6 separate regions of the Homo sapiens genome follow, and all the other regions are linked to region 2. Evidence: fine-mapped expression QTL. A gene starts in region 2. Each other region holds a variant in brackets. All regions are shown on one strand. Distances are from middle to middle.

What was found.
Region 1: its variant is fine-mapped to the expression of PCNX1 in whole blood (INTERVAL, PIP above 0.99).
Region 3: its variant is fine-mapped to the expression of PCNX1 in whole blood (TOPMed, PIP above 0.99).
Region 4: its variant is fine-mapped to the expression of PCNX1 in whole blood (TOPMed, PIP 0.97).
Region 5: its variant is fine-mapped to the expression of PCNX1 in whole blood (TOPMed, PIP above 0.99).
Region 6: its variant is fine-mapped to the expression of PCNX1 in whole blood (TOPMed, PIP above 0.99).

Annotation. Positions count from the first base shown.
Region 1 is chr14:71,141,844-71,145,843 of GRCh38, forward strand. No RefSeq gene overlaps it. Among named protein-coding and RNA genes, the nearest start is that of SIPA1L1, 180 kb to the right of the region's middle. The variant T/C (reference allele first, on the strand shown) is at 2,355.
Region 2 is chr14:70,905,745-70,909,744 of GRCh38, forward strand. It overlaps PCNX1 (pecanex 1), which reads left to right and starts at 1,715. Exons shown (of 36, transcript NM_014982.3): 1 at 1,715-2,259. The coding sequence starts at 2,107. RefSeq lists silencers at 1,618-1,807, 2,028-2,367, 2,528-2,867.
Region 3 is chr14:71,105,821-71,109,820 of GRCh38, forward strand. PCNX1 (pecanex 1) reads left to right here. Exons shown (of 36, transcript NM_014982.3): 34 at 2,784-3,226; 35 at 3,632-3,772; 36 at 3,975-4,000. Among named protein-coding and RNA genes, the nearest start is that of PCNX1, 200 kb to the left of the region's middle. The variant G/A (reference allele first, on the strand shown) is at 2,454.
Region 4 is chr14:70,972,669-70,976,668 of GRCh38, forward strand. All of the region lies in intron 5 of PCNX1 (pecanex 1), which reads left to right. Among named protein-coding and RNA genes, the nearest start is that of PCNX1, 67 kb to the left of the region's middle. The variant T/C (reference allele first, on the strand shown) is at 2,435.
Region 5 is chr14:70,881,697-70,885,696 of GRCh38, forward strand. No RefSeq gene overlaps it. Among named protein-coding and RNA genes, the nearest start is that of PCNX1, 24 kb to the right of the region's middle. The variant C/T (reference allele first, on the strand shown) is at 1,600.
Region 6 is chr14:70,936,466-70,940,465 of GRCh38, forward strand. All of the region lies in intron 1 of PCNX1 (pecanex 1), which reads left to right. All of the region lies in intron 2 of LOC105370557 (a long non-coding RNA gene), which reads right to left. Among named protein-coding and RNA genes, the nearest start is that of PCNX1, 31 kb to the left of the region's middle. The variant C/T (reference allele first, on the strand shown) is at 2,049.

The sequences.
Region 1 (4,000 bases), 240 kb after region 2:
GTCAATGATGCTGCTATTAGTACTCCCTTTTGGCAGATGAGAAAACTGAGGCGTAAGAGGTGAAGTAACTTGCTGTAAGTTCCCCAGCTAGTGAGTAGCGCACCTAGATTCCAGCCAAGCAGTTGGCTTCAGAGGCTGCTGCTGAGACCTCCTCACTGCACACAGCCAGGCACCCACCCAGGCACCCACCCCCTTCCGATGCCATCTGATAAGCAGGGACCTATTACTGCTCTGCTGGGAGCTGAGTCAGAGATGGGGCATACTGGGGGCTGGGGAATGATTACTTCTTTGTTTCCCCCTCTTATTTTATCCCTGGAAAGCCTGGATCAAACCAGGAGGTAGAGAGATTTCTTCAGTGGTGGGCCCTCCACAGGAAAGTCCCCACCATCCCTGTCCTCCCACCATCAGTAACCACACCATTCCTACCCAACTGCCTGATTGGGGATGAGGTCTGGGGCTCATGTACCTCTGCATCCCAAACAAATAGCTACTGTGCATTCCTGTAAGTCCTCTGGTTGAGAATCTGTAAACAGACTCATTGGTAAAGTCTTTCTTGGAAGCTGACCACATGACATGGGAATGTTCGTAGAAGATGCACGTAGTCACCATGAGGAGGGGAAAGAACCCAGTCATCCTATTGTTTTAGACAGGGCTTAACAAAAATGTCTATATAACAAAGCCTGCAAAAATTTAGAAGTGAAACATTTGTGGTTTGAGTTTTTGCGTCAAGGTCCACCACACTTCCTGACAAGTCAGCTCCTTGTCTGGGTAGCCCTTGGATATCAGATCTTCAGGAGAAGCTACTGCCTCTTCAGGTCTGCAGGTTTCCAAATATCAAATTTCTAAAGCATACAATGCCCACAGTTTCACCACTTCCTTTGGTGTCAATGCATTTCATTTTGAGCAATGGCAAGAAAGGCCCCTATGAAATCTTGCTACCACCACCAACAGGAAACATAGCAATCTGTAGCTATAGTCCCCTCATCTGGAGACTGGCCTTGGTAGGCTCACTTCATGCCTTCCTTGCTGGGTTTTGGAAGATGTTGCAATTAACACAAGGAAAGAAGGCAAGCTCTTACCCCTCCTTCCCCTTCACTCAGTAGCAGCATGGTGGTTGCAGAAATAAAGCACTCAGTTGTTCTTTCTGCTTGCAATTGTTCAGATGCAAGGGGAAAAAGTAAAAACTGAAGCTTGCTATGACCTCTGTCTTAAACCATTTTGTGCAGCTATAAAAATTGCTGGGTAATTAATAAAGAACAGAAATTTATTTCTCACAGTTCTGGAGGCTGGGAAGTCCAAGATCAAGGTGCCAGCAGGCTTGGTGTCTGGAGAGGGCCACCCCCAGGATGGTACCTTACACATTACATCTTCCGGAGCAGGGGCAATCACTGTTCCTTACAGGACAGAAATGCAGAACAGAGGGAACCCACATCCACAAGCCCTTTTTAGACTGGCTTTAATCCACTCATGCTCCACCCTCATGACCTGAACACCTCCCAGTAAACCCCACCACCCAATGCTGTTGCATTGGGGATTAAGTTTCCAACACGTGAGTTTTGGAGGGAACAAAAACATTCTGACCATAGCAGCCTCTCCCCAACTTTTACAAGAAGGCTGGCATCTGACGCATTTCATAGCCTGAGTATAAGATGAGGTAACGGAGGGCCCACATCACCTACATCCTGTAAAGCCTGAGGCTCACCAAACCACACAGGGGAGTATGAACACAGAGGACACCTCCCACTGTTGTTCTCTTGTCTCCTGACTCAAACAGCCCCTTCCTTTCAGCCCAAGACATTGAGCCATCCGGGGCTTGCTGTGGTATGATACAAAATAAATATTTGGTCTTTGTCCCTGGTTCCTGACACAGCGCCTCAAAATCCTTGGAACTGATAGTCCTGTATGCTAATGAGATGAGTCATGGAGAGGCCCTAGATAGCTTCAGGATGGGGGCTGGTCACTAGAAAAATCAACCATGTGATTAGAGGATTAGAACTTTCAGCCCCACCTCCTCACTTCTGACCTTCAAGGAGAGGAAAGGGATTGGAGATAAAGTCCAATCACTAAATGACCAATGATTTCATCAATCATGCCTGCATAATTCAGACCTTGAGCAAGAAAGAGGTCAAAGCCTGAGTTACTACCTTTAGTGAGCTTAATTTCCACGTAGGAAAGTAAGAGAAGCACAGCAGCAAAGCTGTGTTTAAAATCCCCGCCCCCGCCCTCCCACTCCCTGCAAAAACACTCCTAAATGAAGTCAGATAAAAATCTCCCAAAAAAATCCTAAGTGAAATCAGATGCAGTGGCTGAAACGTAATTCCAGCTACTGGGGAGACTGAGGTGGGAGGATTGCT[T/C]AAGCCCAGGAATTTGAGGCCAGCCTGGGAAACATAGAGAGACCCTATATCTTTAAAAAATTTTGTTTTAATAAAAACAAGAATAAAACCTAAATGACAGGGATTCAGAGAACTTCTGGGTTGAGAAAAACATTGCTTTAAGAGGCCAAGGTGAGAGAATCACCTGAGGCCAGGAGTTCAGGACCAGCCTCTAAGAGACGGGGGGGTCTCACTCTATTGCCCAGGCTGGAGTGCAGTGGCACAATCTCAGCTCACTGCAGCCTTGACCTCCTGGGCTCAGGTGATCCTCCTACCTCAGCCTCCTGAGTAGCTGAGACCACAGGCATGTGCCACCATGCCCAGCTAACTTTTTTTATTTTTAGTGGAGATAAGCTTTCACTGTGTTGCCCAGACTGATCTCAAACTCCTGGTCTTAAGCAATCCTCCCACCTAAGCCTCCCAAAGTGCTGGGATTACAGGCGTGACCCACTGTGCCCAGCCCCTCAAACAAATTTTTTTTGTTTAGCCACATAGTGGCATGTGCCTGTAGTCTCAGCTACTTGGAAGGCTGAGGCCGGAGCATTGCTTGAGCCCAGGACGTCGAGGCTACAGTGAGCTACAATTTCATCACTGCACTCCAGCCTGGGTGACGGTGTGAGACCCTGTTTAAAAAATAAAAGAAAGACATTGATGCGCTTCAAGGATGGTGCATCTGAAAGACAGAGCCCCAGGACGGTGGTGGCTGCCACCCTCCCTATGCAGCTCTTCCATTTGGTTGTTCCTGAATTGTATCCTTTATAATTAATGGGCAAATGTTAATTAATACGTTTTCCTGAGTTTTATGAGCTGTGAATTATCAAAACTGAGGAAGGGGTTGTAGAAACTCCCAAATGTATAGTCAGAAGTATGGGCGGCTTCTTGGACTTGTGGCTGGCATCTGAAGCAGGGGCAGTCTGGGACGGAGCCTTGAACATGCACTGTTGGCTCTAACTCCAGGAGTTAGAACTGAATTGACTGTTGGATTCCTGTTGATGTCAGAGTCACGGGTCACGAGTGTGGAACACTCTCCACACACTTGGTATCAGAAGTGTCAGAAAAAAGACACTACACCTGTTTTCTCACCAAACAGTGGAAATGCTAAACTATAAGCTATTTCCACTGCATTTTTTTCCCCTCTTGCAATTCCACTCTTCCAGGAAGCTTGGGTGATCAGCCTAGAGTGTTACCTACACTCGCCAACAGAGTCAGCTGAGTTGACGCTCTGGGCATGACAGTTCTTTATTGTGGGGCTGTCATATGTGTGCCATTTTCAGCAGCATCTTTGACCTCTACCCACTAGATGCCGGTAGCAATAAGTCCCTGGCTGCCTCAACAAAATGTGGTCATTCCCTTACGACAAAAACTAGACCTTACAAAAAAGGGTAGTCGAGCCTGAGGCCTGAGACCTGGGTCTAGTCCAGGCTCAGCCCAAGCTCTCTCTGTGACTTTGGGCAGGGCTACCAAGCCTCTTGGTGTCCTCAACTGAACAATGGAAAAGTCAGACCAGATCAACCTGAGTTCCGTTCAGCAACAACGTGCTACACTGCTGTGTTTGCCTTACCTTCCTATGTGGAAATTAAGCCCAGTAGAGCTAGTAACTCAGGCTTTGACCTCTTTCTTGCTCTGTC
Region 2 (4,000 bases):
GGAAAGGTTGGGATTACTTCCAAAACCTTCCCAGAGAGCTTTCCTGTCTCCTTTAGGGGAAACAAATGAAAACTTGACAATAGCTGGTATCTATGACACCAGCTTCAAGGCCACTATTTTAATTGTAAAATTGCATTATTTAATCATAATTTTGCTTTTAGATATACAAATATATTTTAAAGTATATTTTGTCCAGTGTTTACTCACAGCTCTCAATTTCAAGGTATCTTACTGGAACTCAGTGGCTTTGTGGTTATAAGGACATAAACAAATCAAGGCTAGGGATGGTGTGGTGTTCTACAGTGGTAAGCTACATTAGAATCCTCCGGAGGACTTGTTAAAACAGATTGCTGGGTACCACCCCACAGAGTGTCTATAGAATGATGCCCTAAGAATTTGCACTTTGACGAAAACTGGTCATGTATTTAAGCTGGTCACAGATAACCAGAAGGTGCTGAACTGTTCTTAATCAATTCAAACTTTTACCTGAAATGGATAATAAGGTGGAGAGCCTTGAGAAATGAACTTCCAAAGTTCAGTGCATGCAGTTAGCATGACTGCTGGTTTTAGAGTTCTCAACCACTTATTGCTTATGAGCAATAAGTGGCCATAAGCATTTGGCCAATCACTTACTTGAGTTTACAGGTTTTCTCATCCATAAAATAACAATAGCTGCTATGCTGCCCTCAAAGGGTTGTCCTGAGGTCTGAATGGAATGGGTGTGATAGTGTCTGAGCAACTATAAAGTGGTATGGCACTGGGAGGTATTGTAACGGTTTTTCATTACTCTTCTTAAAATATCACCAGTTTCCTTTGGCTCTTGTTTCCCTCATTAATTATAGCAACTGTAATCTGGGAATACACAGTACTTTTATTGCCATAAAAGCCAAACTTCAATAAACTCAAATTTCAAACTTTTCTATAAAATTTTATTCAGTGAGATCAGACACGCCTTATAAACATTACACAGAGCCAAGAATGATTCCGTTTTTACAGCTATAAAAAGAGATCTACAAGACCCTATTGTAATTTGGGGTGGCGTCACGGTTAATCTTTTTCAACCCTGTTTAGATTGGCCCATTAATAAAAATGGCTGCTAGTTACAGCACATTTAAAAATACAATCACCGCGTACAAATGGTAACCTGTCCACTCCATACTTCCATGTCCTGTGCCGCTTCTATTAACTTGTCTTTGGAAGTAGTAAATTCTCCCAGTCTGGACGTGGCTATTTTTTCTCACACACGGGCCAACACAGTTCTTGCTCAACTTGGGTGCGTTTATGACTTTTCAACAGTGTCATCAGCCGTACCTAACTCTTCCAGGCCTTCAGTATCTCAGGTGTTAGCTTCAGTTGTTCCTAGGTCTTTCACAAATATCATAAATGACAGGCAGGACGCTTTTCTGGAGTCAAGATCTGTTAGTTTCGGAGTCAGAAAGACCCCGTTTAGAGACTCGTAGGCGAACTTGCCAGGGGGCCTACCAGGGGCAGAATGGGGTCCTCCGGACCAGCCAGCCGCGTCTCAGCCACCTCCGCAGCCCCCGGGGCCCTGAACCCCGGCCGCGTTGACGCGCGCTTCTCCCGGACGTCGGCAGGAGGCGCCCGCGGCGGACCAGGCGCGGCGCGCACCGTAGCCGGCCCAGGGGGCGGAGGGAGCGGAGAGGAGGAGCTGGAGGGGGCGCGGCTTCCTCTCGGTCGCTCCCTGGCGCCGGGCCTCTTTCTCTGCCTGGCCCAGGGCTGGCGGCCGGCGGGGGTCGCGGCGGCGGCAGTGGGGGCGCTGGCGGGCCGCGGGTGGCGGGGGCCGGGCCGCGGCTCCGGGTGTTAGGAGACAAGATGGCGGCGGCTCTCAGAAGGCCGGTCTCCTCCTCTCCGCCGTCCTCCGCCCCGCCGCTCGCCGCCTCCTCCTCTCGGGTCTCCTCCTCCTCGTTTGCTGCCTCCTCCTCCTCCTGCAGCAGCACCAGCGACCGCCGAAGCGCCGGCTCGCTCACCCGGAGCTCCGGAGGTGGATAGACGGGGCAGCTGCAGGCTCCGGCGACCGAGGCCGAGCTGGGGCCGGGGCGGGGACGGCGGCGGCGGCGGCGGCGACGGCGGCGGCGCCGGGTGGGGATGGGGTCGCAGACGCTGCAGATCCTCCGACAGGGGGTGTGGGCCGCGCTCAGCGGGGGCTGGTACTACGACCCGCACCAGGCCACCTTCGTGAACGCGCTGCACCTCTACCTGTGGCTCTTTCTGCTGGGCCTGCCCTTCACCCTCTACATGGTGAGTGTGGGGGCGGGGAGCGGGTGGCTCCTTCCCCGCGAGCCGGTGGGGAGATGCTGGGGTCGCGCCCTCTTCCTCTTCCACGGGGTCTCGTCCCCCGGGGGCCGCCACCCTCTCGGTGTGAGGCTCCCCGCCCCCACTGCGTGCTCCCACTCCTCTCTTCGGGGCTTTCCTGGTTTCGGAGGTGACACGAGCAACGAGCCCACGGCAACCCGCGCCGGCCGCCCCCGCCCGCTCACTGGGAAGCGGCAGCGTCCTAGGCCCCTTCTCGGGGTTCCCTCCTGCGGCCACTCGGCTAGGCCGTCCCCGCCGGGGCCCCCCGCCCGTGGGGCTGTGTGGCAGGCGCCGAGCGCTCTGCGGCTTTAGGGGACGCCGCATCCATCCTTGGCACGCTGGGTTCCTCGGGCGCCCGGCATCCGGCACTGCCCGCCCCCGCCGCGGCCCTCGTCCGGGGCTCCCGGGAGAGGCCGCCCGCCGCCTCGCCGCTAATCCGCGTGCGGAGCCCCGGGAGCGCGGGGGACCGTGCGGCTCTGCTCCGAGTGTGTGTGGGGGTCGTCCGGGCTCGTCCTCCAGGGGTCCTGGGTGGTGGCTGAAAACCCGGCTCGGAACCCTCCTGCCTCTAAAAAACCGTTGTTGTGCTTCGCAGCGGTTCTTCTCTGTTCGGCCCCGTGGCCGGTGGCCGTGGTGCTTCCTGGCCTCCCTGGGGGGAGGGAGCGGGGAGATAACGGGGAATCTGGCTGGCATTTCAGCAGATTTGTTTGGCTTGGTTCAAGGCCTTTGGCGGATAGGAGTAGGGAGAGAGAGTACTGCCTGTTGCTGAATTCGGTGCGATCAGCTTCTCTGAATCATCTGTGTTTTTAAAGCAACATTGAAAGTTGTTAAGCGCAGTTTCTAAAGCACAGGTTAGGGTGGGGCGTTAGGGAAACTCGTGTGGACAGAGATGTTACTTAAGGCTTCATATAAAATTTTAAAGTAGTCAGAGGGGAGGAAAGGATCTGAACTTTTTATTTTAGGAGAATTCCTTTGAATGTATTTCTGCTAACTTTGAGGTTCTTTGTGGAGCTAGAGACAGGGTGCTGAGTTAGAAAATCCCGGAGGACCACTATGAGAAGTGCAAAAGGTGAGGACACCCAATTCTTCCCTAAGTGAAGTTCAGTTTCACTAATTGGCAGGAAAAGTGTCTGCTTGAGGGAAGATGTGCACATTCTCAAGCAGATTCACATTTTTCGTTGAAATTGTTTTGAAGGGACTTATTGTTTGAGGTTAAAAAAAAAAGCCATTAAGAAATGCTGATGGCTTGTGGCTTGTTTTATTAGGGGGACTTGTTCAGTCTTGTTGCATTCTGAAAATTTATCGTGAAGTATTATAATTTTCAATTAATTTTGGCCTAGGGAGTTCTATTTGCACTACTATACCTTCCAGGAATATGACATCATTAATGAACGGGTTAATTACTTTGGGTTTAAGAATCCTCAGGCTGTCACAAAATTTTCAAAGCAAATTTCTTCTATGTCCAGAAGAATTGTAGATTTAAAACTGAAAATGATTTTTGAGAGGTAAGGATTAGTTGCTGGGTCCAGTGTAAGATTTCTTTTTTAACACTTGTAGTAAACTGTGTGGTCATGGTTAAGTCTCTTTGTGTAGTTAGCAAATGTTACTGAAAGAATATTAGAGCAAATGGAAACCAGGACATTGAGTTTACTTCCTTCATTTTGGGAGTTCAGTTAAACTGAATTCTCAC
Region 3 (4,000 bases), 200 kb after region 2:
GTGAGCCACCACACCCAGCCCAGAAATATAATTTTTTTTATTCCAAGTTGTACATTATTCCATTTGTTCATATTATTTTATATATATAAATATATATTTTATATATTTGTATATATACTTTTAAAACTTGATAATTCAACATAAACATTTTAATATATTAAGGATTCTTTGAAAATATAATTTTTATTTTTTTTATTATTTTTAATTTTTTGAGACAGAGTCTCACTCTGTTGCTCAGGCTGGAGTGCAGTGGTGCCATCTCGGCTCACTGCAAGCTCTGCCTCCTGGGTTCACACCATTCTCCTACCTCAGCCTCCCGAGTAGCTGGGACTACAGGTGCATGCCACTGCGCCCAACTAATTTTTTTTTTGTATTTTTCGTAGAGACGAGGTTTCAACCATGTTAGCCAGAATGGTCTCGATCTCCTGACCTTGTGATCCGCCCACCTTGGCCTCCCAAAGTGCTGAGATTACAGGCGTGAGCCACCACGCCCAGCTGAAAATATAATTTTTAAAGGCTAACAATATTTAACTATTATAATTAACTTCTCCCCTGTTGGACAATTACTTGGTTTTTCTTCTAACAATGTTGTAATAGTCTTTGTATATAAGTCTTTATAATCATTTATTATTTTCATAGGTTAGAGACTTTAAAAATGAAATCACTAGGCCAAAGCCTATGAGAATAAGACTCTTGATATATAATGCCAAAAATCTTTCCAGAAAGGTTTTTTTTTTTTTTTAAACCAGTTGGTACTCTCACCAGTCCTATCAACCTTCCCAGCTTTGAAGATTGTCAGTTCCTGCCTCTGCTCCTTGCTTGCTCCAGTGGGGGCAGGAGAAGGGGTGGTCTTTAATTTTATTCTTTTAATTTGCATTACTCTGATACCTAAGAATGGAAGTTTTTAATGAATTTATCAGCAGCTCCTCTTTCTAAAGTGCCTAGTTACATCTTTTGCCTATTTTTCTATTTGGTTATCTTTTTCTTACTGATTTGTGTTTTATATTCTGGATTTGAGCTCTTTCAGTTTTCTGTACCACAAATATCTTTTCCCATTCTGTCCCTTGTCTTTTCATTCTCTTACTGTGAAGAGTTACTTGCCTTCTTCTGATGAGAAGTCCTTAGTTTTAGTGAGAACAACTTACTATTCATTTATTTTATCATTAGTACTTTTTATGTCCTAATTAAGAAAATTTTCCCTGTCCCTAGGCCCTCAAAGTATGCTTTTATTAATTTCCCTTTGACATGAGATCTACAATCCACCTGGTGTGCAGAAGGAATCAGGTCTCAACTGTCTCCATATGGCTGGGCAGTTGATCCAGCCATATGAAGAAGTTGATCCTCTCCCCAACTGCCCCCCTGACTGCTTCACGTGAATCAAATAAAGTTCTAAGACATTTACTTAAATGTAAAGACATTTATTAAATTTAAATATATATATTTTCAATGGGATTCAAGTGAAGAGACCTGATAGATCAACATTTTGGATGTTCAGAAATACGTATCTGAGATCTGTTTTCTTTTGTGGTTTTTGTAATTTTTTTTTTATTTGCTGAAGTTTTTTAAAGTTCAAATTCTGTGGCATATGAAAGACATAATGAATAATTAAATATTTTTTATTTAGGTGAAAACCTAAAACTTTCAGTGTTCTTTAAATGTACTTTTTGTTCTTACCTTGATTAGCTCTTTTTATTTTTAGGTAAAAAGTACATGTAGCTATGTTTCAATGTAATTAATTTTACATTACTCTTATGAGTCAAGAAAAAGACAAGTCTGAAGAATCATATCAAGCCACTTGAAAAAGGATGCAGAAGAACCTGCTTTTCAGTGCCACTGATCATTCCGATTTAGTAGTGATCCCCAAATGTATATGAAAATTACAGCGTGGTATTCACTGTCTCTCTATAGACAGTGTAGCTTTTCCTTGGTAGAAGTTGAAAGGGCAGTAATACTATACTTTGAGAAATAGTAGTTATAGAGCTTGCCACATAGTAGGGCCTTAATAAATATTTCTTTTTAACTGGCAAAAATTATATATATTTATGGTATACAACATCATGTTTTGATATGTGAATATATTGTGAAATGATTAAATTAAGCTAGTTAACCTATCCATCACCTCATATACTTCTTTGTGATAAGAATGTTTTAGAGCTACTCAACAATTTTTAAGCATACAACACATTATTATTAACTCTAGTCCCCAGGCTGTACAGTAGACCTCCAGAGCTTGTTCCTCTTGACTCAGTGGAACTCTGTACCCTTTGACCAACACCTCCTCTTCCCCAGCCCCTGGCAACCACCATTCTACTCTCTGCTTCTGTGAGTTCGGGGTTTTCAGATTCCACAAGTGAGATCATGCAGTGTTTCTTAGTAAATCCTTCTGACTGTCTCATTTCCGTGAGATATTTCATTTCTGATATATTATGGAAGTATTCTTGTTATTTTAAAAT[G/A]CTTCTGTGAAACATATTTTAGGATTTATCCCAACCTTAAGTCCTGATATTTGCTGTAAAATATTTAATTATTAATTGTCTTTCATATGCCACAGAATTTGAACTTTAAAAAACTTTAGCAAATAAAAAATATATTACAAGAACCACAAAAGAAAATAGATCTCAGATACGTATTTCTTTTTCTTAACTTTAAAAGTTTTAGGCATAAACGTTAAGTTCTGTCAGTTCACCAATTAATTGCTTAGGGGAAAAAGTCTTAGAAACTGCAAAACAGAAGTATTGTGTCTGAGTCATTCTACTTTGAGTGAGTGCTGCTGTTTCTCCTCCTAGGCACTAGCCACAGCTCTCACTCTGTGCAGTCGGGCCTGGTCAGACAGTCTCCTGCCCGGGCCTCAGTAGCCAGCCAGTCTTCCTACTGCTATAGCAGCCGGCATTCATCCCTCCGGATGTCCACCACTGGGTTTGTGCCTTGTCGGCGCTCTTCTACTAGTCAGATATCGCTTCGAAACTTGCCATCATCCATCCAATCCCGACTGTCGATGGTGAACCAAATGGAACCCTCAGGTCAGAGCGGCCTGGCCTGTGTGCAGCACGGCCTGCCTTCCTCCAGCAGCTCCAGCCAAAGCATCCCAGCCTGCAAACATCACACTCTCGTGGGCTTTCTTGCGACAGAGGGAGGTCAGAGCAGTGCCACTGATGCACAGCCAGGCAACACCTTAAGTCCTGCCAACAATTCACACTCCAGAAAGGCAGAAGTGATTTACAGAGTCCAAGTAAGTAAGCCCAGAGGTGGTCTTGTGCTGTTTTTGTTACTTATTTGTTTTTATTTCTTATTTGTTGAATGAAGGACTGTTGTGAATACACACCTTATCTTAGTCTCAGGACTAGAATATTTTTGAATGTTGGGGAAAAATTTCTTCAAACTTAAAAACTGAAAGCAAACAGTTTTTGTGATGGTGATATATGTTCCTTGTTCAGCCACTGTCTCATGGACATTGCAGTGAGGTCTACCAGAGGGCTGAAAAGAATTCAAGATGTAGCTCTTAAGATTTTTTTTTTATTCCATTATAGGAATTTAAAAAGTAATTCCTCTCTGTGAAAAGCATTTTGTTTGAGATTACATAATTTTTCATCATCAAGAAAAAAATGAATTGGAAATGTTTTTATTTACCATGTAGATTGTGGATCCCAGTCAAATTCTGGAAGGGATCAACCTGTCTAAAAGGAAAGAGCTACAGTGGCCTGATGAAGGAATCCGGTTAAAAGCTGGGAGAAATAGCTGGAAAGACTGGAGTCCGCAGGAGGGCATGGAAGGCCATGTAAGTTCTTTTACAAGCTGGCGGTCTGGGGCTCTGCCTTTTTTGAAGTCCGCCTCACTTGGATGCATGGTTTTAGCTGATTTATACTTAAACGTATAATTTTCAGACAAAATTGCTACTACTAATCCTAGGTAGGGGTAAGAGTTTGTGAGTATATTCCAGGTCTCCAGTGCTAACTTCTTGTTTTATTCTGAATCATTAGGTGATTCACCGATGGGTGCCTTGCAG
Region 4 (4,000 bases), 67 kb after region 2:
ACAGTTAGTTGATTAGTTGGCACTCATTTTGTCACATGATTCAGGATGACTGGGGGAAAACAGGATATTGGGGTATATCTTTAACTTTTTCACTTCTAAGATAATCTACAGTTTCCCTACCTCTCGCTCATACCTTCCCTATCCAAGATCAGAACTTCAGACCGTCCCCATGGGAATATGAGGGCTGGGTAGAAGGTAGAGGAACTAGTTACAGGTATTTCTGAATTTCAGTTTGTCATGGGGATAGAAAACTGGATAAGATTTACAAAGAGGGAGTATAGGTAGAAAAGTGAAAAGTTCTAGCTGGGTGCGGTGACTTACCCCTATAATCCCAGCACTTCGAGAGGCCAAGGTGGGAGTATGGCTGGAGGCCAGGAGTTCAATACCAGCCTGGGCAACATGGTGAAGCCCTGCCTTTAAGAAAAAATACAAAAAATTACCTGGGTGTGGTGCAGTGTACCTGTAGCTCAGCTACCCAAGAGGCTGAGGCAGGAGGATTGCTTGAGCCTAGGAGATCAAGACTGCAGTGAGCCATGATTGCAGCACTACACTCCAGCCTGAGTGACAGAGCAACACTCTGTCTCAAAAAAAAAAAAAAAAAGAAAAAGTGAAAAGTTTTAAGATGTGAACCCTGAGCCTCTTTAGTTTAAGAAGTCCAGGAGACTGAGTAGGAACAACTAGTGAGATCAAAGGAAAACCAAGACTGTTATCCACCTGTGTTCAAGGAGAATGGATTGACCAGCTTTGTCAAGTGCTGCCGATAGGTCAGGTGACATGCAGACTGAGACTTGACCATTGGATTGAACAATTTAGGGGGTGTTGGTGACCTTGATAAGCACGGTCTTAGGGGAGTTGAATTGGAATACAAAGAGAATTGGAGGAGAAGAATCAGACAGTGAATACAGACAACTCTTTCAGTGAATTTTTGTAAAGGTGATAGCAAGCAGGAGAAGTAAAGATGAGGGATTTCGATTTTGTAAGATGTTGTAAGAGATATAACAACATGTTTGTATAATTGATTATTATCCATAATCAATTGATAGGGATGATCAGAGAGAGAAAGAAGGTATGATTTTTGTTTATAAAAGTAACATATATGTTAACTTTAGAAAATATAGTTAAGTATGAAGAAAAAATTTAGACCTCTGCCACTGATAAACTTTTTTTTGCATATCATTTTTTCATATTTTTTTGCTTTGATATAATTCAGTGGTTTTTAGAATATTATGCATCCATCACCACTATCTAAATCCAGAACATTTTCATTACTCCAGTAAGAAACCTGCACCCATTACACTCCCCATTTCCCCTTCAAGCAGCCCCTGACAACCTCTAGTTTACTGTTTCTTTGAATTTGCCTATTCTGGACATTTCATATAAACACAATTATATGTGGTTTTTTTTTTTTTAATGTGTCTGGCTTCTTTCATTTACCTTATTCTGGCATGTATCAGGATGTTATTTCTTTTTATGGCTAACTGTGGTATATCACTTTTCGCATTTATAAAAATATACGCCCATATACCATTAGCATTCATTTAAACTTACAGAACTGGAATTGTGGTTTTTTTTGTTGTTTTTTTTTTTTTTTTTGAGAGGGAGTCTCGCTCTGTTGCCCAGGATGGAGTGTGCAGTGGTGTATTTTTAGTAGAGATGGGGTTTCACCATGTTGGCCAGGCTGATCTCGAACTCCTGACCTCGTGATCCACCTGCCTCGGCCTCCCAAAGTGCTGGGATTACAGGCGTGAGCCACTGCACCCAGCCAGTGCCACCTTTTTCACTTAATTATTTTCTCATGTTATTACATAATCTTTGAAAATGTTTTTAGTGCCTGTATGAAATTATTAGTGGACCACATATTCAATCGTTATTTATAGGACATTGTTATACTTTTTGTGCTTTAAGAACTTTTATAATAAGGTGACATGAACAACTTTGTGCTAAAAACCTTGTACGCATATTTGACTCTATCCTTTAGCAACAATTTCTTACCTTCAAGATAAGAATACCTTTTCAAGTTTCTTGGCCATATTGCCAGATTGCTTTAAGAAGGTTACACCAGTTGGTACCACCATGAGCAGTATGTCTTTCTTATTCTAAACGCCACTAATAACAATTATTTTAAAAAAAGTTTGATTCGATGAAAAATGTATCTTTTTGTGTTGATTTGAGCCTCTTAACTTTGATATAATCTTTTTCATATGGGTAACAGTAAGAAAAAATATATTTACCTGAAAATTTCCTGAAACCACCGAAATTCTTTCTGACAAAATTAAACCTTTTGTGGTATATTTGTTTAGCAGTATCGAAAAAAGTGCATGTATTAAAGTAAGTTTGGCTGTGTCTTTTAAAATGAAATACTTACATTTCTGTTTTATTAATTTATCAGAAGGAAGTTGGTTTTGATCATTAGCATTAAAAAAACCTTTTGTTA[T/C]CTTAGATTTAGTGATTTTCAACTACTTGCTCAGAGTCGATAAGTTTTCTGTAAAATTCATATCCTTGAAATGTGAATATCACACCAACCGATAATTGCTTATTAGAGATAAAGAGTTTTTAGAAATAACATTATAATTTAATATTACAAAACGTACAATGCTAGCTTTTAAATTTTGATATTTAGAAGATATAAGAACGCAACTACAGTAGCAGCTGTGTTGGGAAAATAATAAAGAACGGGTTTTACTTATCTTGAAAACTTTAAAATGTAAAATAAAGTGTAATTGGACATTTATACACTATAATTTTTATGGTACACTCCAGAGGCTATCCGTGAATTTTTAATTAATTAATCATAGCTAAATCTACATTTAGATTTTTAAAGATTACATAAACATTTTTAATAACTCATTCCTTTCTTTTAATCTTAGGGGGAAATGTCTGCTTTGGTCATTGAGATTCTACTGGGAAGACTCAGATTTACTATAGAATCTGTTATTTTACTTTGTCTATCCAGCTATGACAAGACAATAATTTTTCTTTTTATTGAACTAACAGCAGGTTCAGATGTCCTTGTCTGTCAAAACATATATTTAAAAATCAGCTATTTTGCAGTTTGGTTGTCAAGCTATATTCCAAGATAAATTACAATGTAGGTAGGTAGGTAGATACATTGATTTATATCTATATTTACATTTGTATATCTAGTATGTATGATAAGTCACTAATCACTGGTCTGGATGGAGGGTTAAAGCAGTGGTCTTACAGATACAAGAAGGTAAGTATTTTTTTCATGAAGTATTTTTTAATTGCTATACCAATAATGAAAGATAAAATGCAGTATTTTGCTCTGTAATTATTGCTGTTTTTACCATTCTGAACAGCAAGAGGATGTCTTACATCATTATATCTTGTTTAGGCATTGGTCAGCCTATTTTCGTTTGTTTGTTTCTGATTACTCTAGGTTTTCTTGATTTGTGAAATAATCGTATTAGCTTTTTGAAAGGATTTTAATATTGTGTTAGTAAGGTAGAATAATGATAGCCATCTTTAATTGTGACGGCATTGTGTCAAGCAATATATGTCATTAACTCAGTTATTCCTTGCCTGTGACTCAGTGAAGTTGATGTCCCATTTTGCAGATGAGGAAACAGATTTACAGGGGGGTAACCCAAAGTTACCAAGTTAGTAAGTTGGAGATAGAGCTTGCATAGAAATCCAGGCCTATTTTAAGTATAGTCCTTTGTTGCTCTTTCTTTCTTTCTTTCTTTTTTTTTTTTTTTTTTGAGACAGAGTCCTGCTCTTTTGCCCAGGCTGGAGTGCAGTGGTACGATCTCGGCTCACTGCATGCTCCGCCTCCTGGGTTCACACCATTCTCCTGCCTCAGCCTCCGGAGAAGCTGGGACTACAGGCGCTCGCCACCACGCCCGGCTAATTTTTTTGTATTTTTAGTAGAGACGGAGTTTCACAGTGTTAGCCAGGATGGTCTTGATCTCCTGACCTTGTGATCCACCCACCTTGGCCTCCCAAAGTGCTGGGATTACAAGCGTGAGCCACTGCGCCC
Region 5 (4,000 bases), 24 kb before region 2:
TGTCATGGTCTATGCCTTCTTCATGTACAAACATCATACAGTTAACCCACCACCATGATAGCATGTACTTTCTGTTGTCGTGTTGTTTCCTAGTAAGGTGATTGATTTGCATTGCTTCAACCGGGCTCCTCTGATTGATCATTTTCTAAACAATGGATGCATTTACAGATGGTTGCCAGGTTCAGCAGAGGAGGCTGTAGCCATCAAATAGATAAAGTAGGCTCACCACATTCTGGAATTGAAACCGTGATCTTGGTTACATCAGAAGGTGCTCTAACCAATTGAACAAACCAGGCCTCGATGAAGCAACTGAGAGCTGGGGGATTCTTATGCAGAACAGAGCATTCATACTTCCGCTTCCATATGTACCACATATGTGTTCCTCTCAACTGGTTTTGTACATTTCCATTGCCTTAAATGTATTCACATAGCACTCTTTAAATACTCGAAGTATAATGAAGAAAAGAGAAGGAACTGAAATGGTTCCATTCCATTTCTCACTAGGAAGTTGATTCTGTGCACTCTATTTCTGACTATTTTCTATCAGCCTATCACTGTGGGATGTAGGAGGGAGGAACAGGACACAAAATGTGGCATAATTAAAAAAAGATGAAGAAGAAAATTAAAATCATTAACCATTAGTAATCATTTTTAATGTGCATCATTTTTAAAATTCGAGAATAACCCAAGGAGGTAGGCATAATGTTTAGACATGATTTACCAGTGAAAAGAAGCTTAGAGAAATGAAGTAACGGCTGGAAAGTCACAGCTAGAACTCAAAGTGAGAATTCCCACCCAAGAAATCTAACTCCAGATTCTACACTCCTAATCTCCGCTATGTTGCTTTCCTGAAATGAGGAAAGAATAAGAAAGGAGAAAATTAGTGACAGGAAAGAGAGAGCTGAATAAGAGGGGACAAAGAAAGGAGGAAGGAAATCAAGCAGTTTCTACACTCTGGAAAATAACGGAGCAGAATTAACAGAAGAGAACTACTTTCCTCAATGCTCATTCTACTGTTAAAAAAAAAATAAGCCAGGCAGTGCAGCACACGCCTATAATCCCAGTGACTAAGGAGGCTGATGTAGGAGGATTGCTTGAGCCCAGGAGTTTGAAGCTAACCTGGGCAACAGAGCAAGACCTTGTCTCTAAAAAAAATTTTTTTTAAGTAGCTGCATTGTCTTGTTTTTCTAACTTTGTACAGTGCTTAGAGTAACACTATCTAAACAGCATGTGTTCCATAAACCCTGTTGACTAACCGCTGGATTTGCACAAGAAACACCGGAAGACTCTTAGGCAAGAGATATATTGTAAGATCCGTGACAATGAGATCTCTTGGATGACATGTTTTTCATTGTTTACTGCGTGTCTAAAATGAGAAGGTCCTAAGAGCCAACCTTTCATTGGAGTGGCCCCCATAAAACTGTCTGCTGTGTAAGGGGTGTTGGAGTGACTCTCCATCACAGGTTCTACTGCAGCTCTAGGGTGGGTCCTGAGTGATGTGAACCCCACCCCCATCCCCGTTGCTAGTGAATGGGTCTGGGGTAGGCAGGCCAAGGCCAATTGGGACCAATGAGTCATAAAGAGTTTTCTAAACACTTC[C/T]GGAAAATATGCTTTCTTACCCTTAAGAAAGAGTCACAGGAAGTTAGTAGGAGGTGAAAAGGGAAGCAATTAACCCAGCAACTACTGGAAGCCTTCCAAAACCCAGGGATCTTTCCCCAGAATGAAGTCAGCATTGGGGATAGCACAGCAGAGAGATGCAAAGAGCCACTGGATCCACCAGTCCTGAATCCTACCCAGCCTTTGACATCCTGCATTGGAGCCAATACATTTCTTTATGATAAAAGCTAGTTTGAGGTTGAGTCAGGATTTCTGTCCCATATTTTAAAGTATCCTACTGATGCAGCCTGGTAAACATAAAACATGGTAAACACATGTGGCCTGATTTTATTGGCAGCATGGTTAACTGGTTCAAGCTATGGTTCAAGCTATTCTTTCCCTTCTGTGATTATGACCATACGCTCTCATGAAAGGTGAAGCCTTTCTCCTGCCATGGCTACCTGGCTAAAAAAGCTCAGCCAGAGTCTCAATTCCTATAACCTCCTTCCCATCCATCCATTCATCCATCCATCTATCCATCCATCCATCCATCCATCCATCCATCCATCCAGCTGATGGATTAATAAATTTATATCAAGCACTTACTCTGAGCAAGGCATTTTGCTAGGCACTGTAAGGCCATCAAAAAGGAAAAAATAGGCCGGGCGCGGTGGCTCACGCTTATAATCCCACCACTTTGGGAGGCCGAGGTGGGTGGATCACCTGAGGTCAGGAGCTCGAGACAAGCCTGACCAATATGGTGAAACCCCGTCTCTACTAAAAATACAAAAATTAGCTGGGCTTGGTGCCGTGCACCTGTAGTCCCAGCTATTCGGGAGGCTGGGGCAGGAGAATTGCTTGAACCCAGGAGGCAGTGAGCCGAGATTGTGCCACTGCACTCCAGCCTGGCGACAGAGTGACACTCTGTCTCAAAAAAGAAAAAAGAAAAAAAAAATCAGATGCTCTCTGTTCTCAGAGACCTTATAGTGTAAAAGGGGAGAAAAAATATGTATACAATTAACTACGGCAAAATGTAGAAAACTGTTAGGTGTCACTAGATACAGTGCCACAGTAGATCAATGAAAGGAAGAGACCATTTCCAGCTGGGAAGGTTAGGGCCATTTTTTGTAAAGAAGATGGATTTTATGCTAGATCTTGGATGATCCTGAACTAGCACAGAGGAAATGAGCATTCCTGGCAGAGAAGAGCAGGAGAAAAGGCCGAGCAGAAAATCACAGAGAAAGGATGGGAAACAATTGGCTGGAAAATAAGGTTGGAACTTGAAAGGGTCAGTGAGGCCAGATAGTAATAGGATATAATTCCAGGTCGAGATCTTAGTCTGTGGGCAGTAGGTTGGGTTTTGAGTCAGGTATGAGCTGAGCAATAGAATGTGGTTTTGAAAGAAAGGAAGAGTATTCAAGACAGAGCACAGCAGGAGCAGATAGAAGAACCCAGGTGGCTGGTTTCTCTGACACAGGCAGGAAACATTCTTCTGCAATGGTGAGCCAGGCTGGATGATAGGGGAGACTCTACTTATGAGGCAGGAGGGTCTAGAATGAGGGACAGTTACCCAGAGTCTGGGAGCATCAAGCCACTCCTTCATGAGTCAGGCCCAGCAAGCTTGCTTATGAGCAGTGAGATTAGAAAACCCACGGGCAGAACCATGTGGACCGACAAGAAATAGGTGAGCGCCATATGTTTCCAGGGGCCAGACAGGTGAGCATCTGAGCAAAGACAGAAGCCAAAGCGGTGCAAACCTGGAAGGACAGGAGCAAGGCAGCTCAGGAGCTGACTGGGCAGTAGTATCGAAGGCCCAGATACAGTGTCCAGGCAAAGGGCCAAGAGCCCAGTCAAGGATGACAGCTGTATTGCGGAGATAAAGCGAAGAAAGCACAGGTTTCAGAGTCAAACAGACTCAGGTTTGAATCCAAGACTATCTTATCTGCTGTGTAAACTTGGGCAAGCCACTTAACCTCTCTGAGGCTTCTGTTTCCTTGGCTAAAAAGGAACATAATAATGTCTACCTCAAAGAGTTGTTATAAGGAGTATAAATAATATATGAAGAGTGCCTGGCACTTGGAGCACTCAATAAATGAGAGCTATTGTTATTATCAATATCACCCTCATTATTTATATTGAACTATAGAGATTGCTGTGGCTCAGGCTGAGAAATAAAGCAAGTGAGAGGAGTCTTTGCCAAGAACAGAGAAACCACCAGGAGGGGGAACGGGCCTCTGCAGAATTGATCACAAAAGCTCTCTGGCTTATGTATTACTCATTTGTCACTGTTGATTTATACATTCATTCTTATACTCAGTAATGCCAACACCATTGTCACCATTGCCATCATTCCCTCCAACAAAAATAAGAAGAACCTTAGATTTCTGTTAAAACAGTTCAACAG
Region 6 (4,000 bases), 31 kb after region 2:
TTTTTTATGGTTACATAGTATTCCATGGTGTATATGTGCCACATTTTCTTAATCCAGTCTATCATTGATGGACATTTGGGTTGGTTCCAAGTCTTTGCTATTGTGAATAGTACTGCATTAAACATACGTGTTGCATGTGTCTTTATAGCAGCATGATTTATGATCATTTGGCTAAGTACCCAGTAATGGGATGGCTGGGTCAAATGGTATCTCTAGTTCTAGATCCTTGAGGAATTGCCACACTGTCTTCCACAATGGTTGAACTAGTTTACAGTCCCACCAACAGTGTAAAAGTGTTCCTATTTCTCCACATCCTCTCCAGCACCTGTTGTTTCCTGACTTTTTAATGATCACCATTCTAACTGGTGTGAGATGGTATCTCATTGTGGTTTTGATTTCCATTTCTCTGATGGCCAGTGATGAAGAGCATTTTTTTATGTGTCTGTTGGCTGGATAAATGTCTTCTTTTGAGAAGTGTCTGTGTATATCCTTTGCCCACTTTTTGATGGGTTTGTTTGATTGTTTTCTTGTAAATTTGTTTAAGTTCTTTGTAGATTCTGGATATTAGCCCTTTGTCAGATGGATAGATTGTAAAAATTTTCTCCCGTTCTGTAGGTTGCCTGTTCACTCTGATGGTAGTTTCTTTTGCTGTGCAGAAACTCTTTAGTTTAATTAGATCCCATTTGTCAATTTTGGCTTTTGTTGCCATTGCTTTTGGTGTGTTGGTCATGAAGTCCTTACCCATGCCTATGTTCTGAATGGTATTGCCTAGGTTTTCTTCTAGGGTTTTTATGGTTTTAGGTCTAACATTTAAATCTTTAATCCATCTTGAATTAATTTTTGTATAAGGTATAAGAAAGGGATCCAGTTTCAGCTTTCTACCTATGGCTAGCCAGTTTTCCCAGCACCATTTATTAAATAGGGAATCCTTTCCCCATTTCTTGTTTCTGTCAGATTTGTCAAAGATCAGATAGCTGTAGATGTGCGGTATTATTTCTGAGGGCTCTGTTCTGTTCCATCGGTCTATATCTCTGTTTTGGTACCAGGACCATGCTGTTTTGGTTACTGTAGCCTTGTAGTAGAGTTTGAAGTCAGGTAGCATGATGCCTCCAGCTTTGTTCTTTTGGCTTAGGATTGTCTTGGCAGTGCGGGCTCTTTTTTGGTTCCATATGAACTTTAAAGTAGTTTTTTTCCAATCTGTGAAGAAAGTCATTGGTAGCTTGATGGGGATGGCATTGAATCTATAAATTACCTTGGGCAGTATGTCCATTTTCACAATATTGATTCTTCCTATCCATGAGCATGGAATGTTCTTCCATTTGTTTGTGTCCTTTTTTATTTCGTTGAGCAGTGGTTTATAGTTCTCCTTGAAGAGGTCCTTCACATCCCTTGTAAGTTGGATTCCAAGGTATTTTATTCTCTTTGAAGCAATTGTGAATGGGAGTTCATTCATGATTTGGCTCTCTGTCTGTTATTGGTATATAGGAATGCTTGTGATTTTTGCACATTGATTTTGTATCCTGAGACTTTGCTGAAGTTGCTTATCAGCTTAAGGAGATTTTGGGCTCAGACGATAGGGTTTTCTAAATATACAATCATGTCATCTGCAAACAGGGACAATTTGACTTCCTCTTTTCCTAATTGAATACCCTTTATTTCCTTCTCCTGCCTGATTGCCCTGGCCAGAACTTCCAACACTATGTTGAATAGGAGTGGTGAGAGAGGGCATACCTGTCTTGTGCCAGTTTTCAAAGGGAGTGCTTCCAGTTTTTGCCCATTCAGTATGATTATTGGCTGTGGGTTTGTCATAGATAGCTCTTATTATTTTGAGATACGTCCCATCAATACCTAATTTATTGAGAGTTTTTAGCATGAAGTGTTGTTGAATTTTGTCAAAGGCCTTTTCTGCATCTATTGAGATAATCGTGGTTTTTGTCTTTGGTTCTGTTTATATGCTGGATTACATTTGTTGATTTGTGTATATTGAACCAGCCTTGCATCCCAGGGATAAAGCCCACTTGATCATGGTGGATAAGCTTTTTGATGTG[C/T]TGCTGGATTCGGTTTGCCAGTATTTTATTGAGGATTTTGCATCAGTGTTCATCAAGGATATTGGTCTAAAATTCTCTTTTTTGGTTGTGTCTCTGTCCGACTTTGGTATCAGGATGATGCTGGCCTCATAAAATGAGTTAGGGAGGATTCTCTCTTTTTCTATTGATTGGAATAGTTTCAGAAGGAATGGTACCAGTTCCTCCTTATACCTCTGGTAGAATTTGGCTGTGAATCCCTTTGGTCCTGGACTTTTTTTGGTTGGTAGGCTATTAATTATTGCCTCAATTTCAAAGCCTGCTATTGGTGTATTCAGGGATTCAACTTCTTCCTGATTTAGTCTTGGGAGGGTGTATGTGTCCAGGAATTTATCCATTTCTTCTAGATTCTCTAGCTTATTTGCGTAGACGTGTTTATGGTATTCTCTGATGGTAGTTTGTATTTCTGTGGGATAGGTGGTGACATCCCCTTTATCATTTTTTATTGCGTCTATTTGATTCTTCTGTCTTTTCTTCTTTATTAGTCTTGCTAGTGGTCTATCAATTTTGTTGATCTTTTCAAAAATCCAGCTCCTGGATTCATTGATTTTTTTTGAAGGGTTTTTTGTGTCTCTGTCTCATTCAGTTCTGCTCTGATCTTAGTTATTTCTTGCCTTCTGCTAGCTTTTGAATGTGTTTGCTCTTGCTTCTCTAGTTCTTTTAATTGTGATGTTAGGGTGTCAATTTTAGATCTTTCCTGCTTTCTCTTCTGGACATTTAGTGCTATAAATTTCCCTCTACACACTGCTTTAAATGTGTCCCAGAGATTCTGGTATGTTGTGTCTTTGTTCTCATTGGTTTCAAAGAACATCTTTATTTCTGCTTTCATTTTGTTATGTACCCAGTAGTCATTCAGGAGCAGGTTGTACAGTTTCCATGTAGTTGAGTGGTTTTGAGTGAGTTTCTTAATCCTGAGTTCTAGTTTGATTGCACTGTGGTCTGAGAGACAGTTTGTTATAACTTCTGTTGTTTTACATTTGCTGAGGAGTGCTTTACTTCCAACTGTGTCGTCAGTTTTGGAATAAGTGCAGTGTGTTGCTGAGAAGAATGTATATTCTGTTGATTTGGGGTGGAGAGTTCTGTAGATGTCTATTAGGTCCACTTGGTGCAGAGCTGAGTTCAATTCCTGGATATCCTTGATCACTTTCTGTCTCGTTGATCTGTCTAATGTTGACAGTGGGGTGTTAAAGTCTCCCATTATTGTGTGGGAGTCTAAGTCTCTTTGTAGGTCTCTAAGAGCTTGCTTTATGAATCCGGGTGCTCCTGTATTGGGTGCATATGTATTTAGGATAGTTAGCTCTTCTTGTTGAATTGATACCTTTACCGTTATGCAATGGCCTTCTTTGTCTCTTTTGATCTTTGTTGGTTTAAAGTCTGTCTTATCAGAGACTAGGATTGCAACCTTGTTTTTTTTGTTTTCCATTTGCTTGGTAGATCTTCCTTCATCCCTTTATTTTGAGCCTATGTGTGTCCCTGCACATGAGATGGGTCTCCTGAATGCAGCGCACACTGATGGGTCTTGACTCTTTATCCAATTTGCCAGTCTGTGTCTTTTAATTGGAGCATTTAGCCCAATTACATTTAAGGTTAATATTGTTATGTGTGATTTTGATCCTGTCATTATGATGCTAGCTGGTTATTTTGCCCGTTAGTTGATGCAGTTTCTTCCTAGCATCAATGGTCTTTACAATTTGGCATGTTTTTGCAGTGGTTGCTACTGGTTGTTCCTTTCCATGTTTAGTGCTTCCTTCAGGAGCTCTTGTAAGGCAGGCCTGGTGACAAAATCTCTCAGCATTTGCTTGTCTGTAAAGGATTTTATTTCTCCTTCACATATGAAGCTTAGTTTGGCTGGATATGAAATTCTGGGTTGAAAATTCTTTTCTTTAAGAATGTTGAATATTGGCCCCCACTCTCTT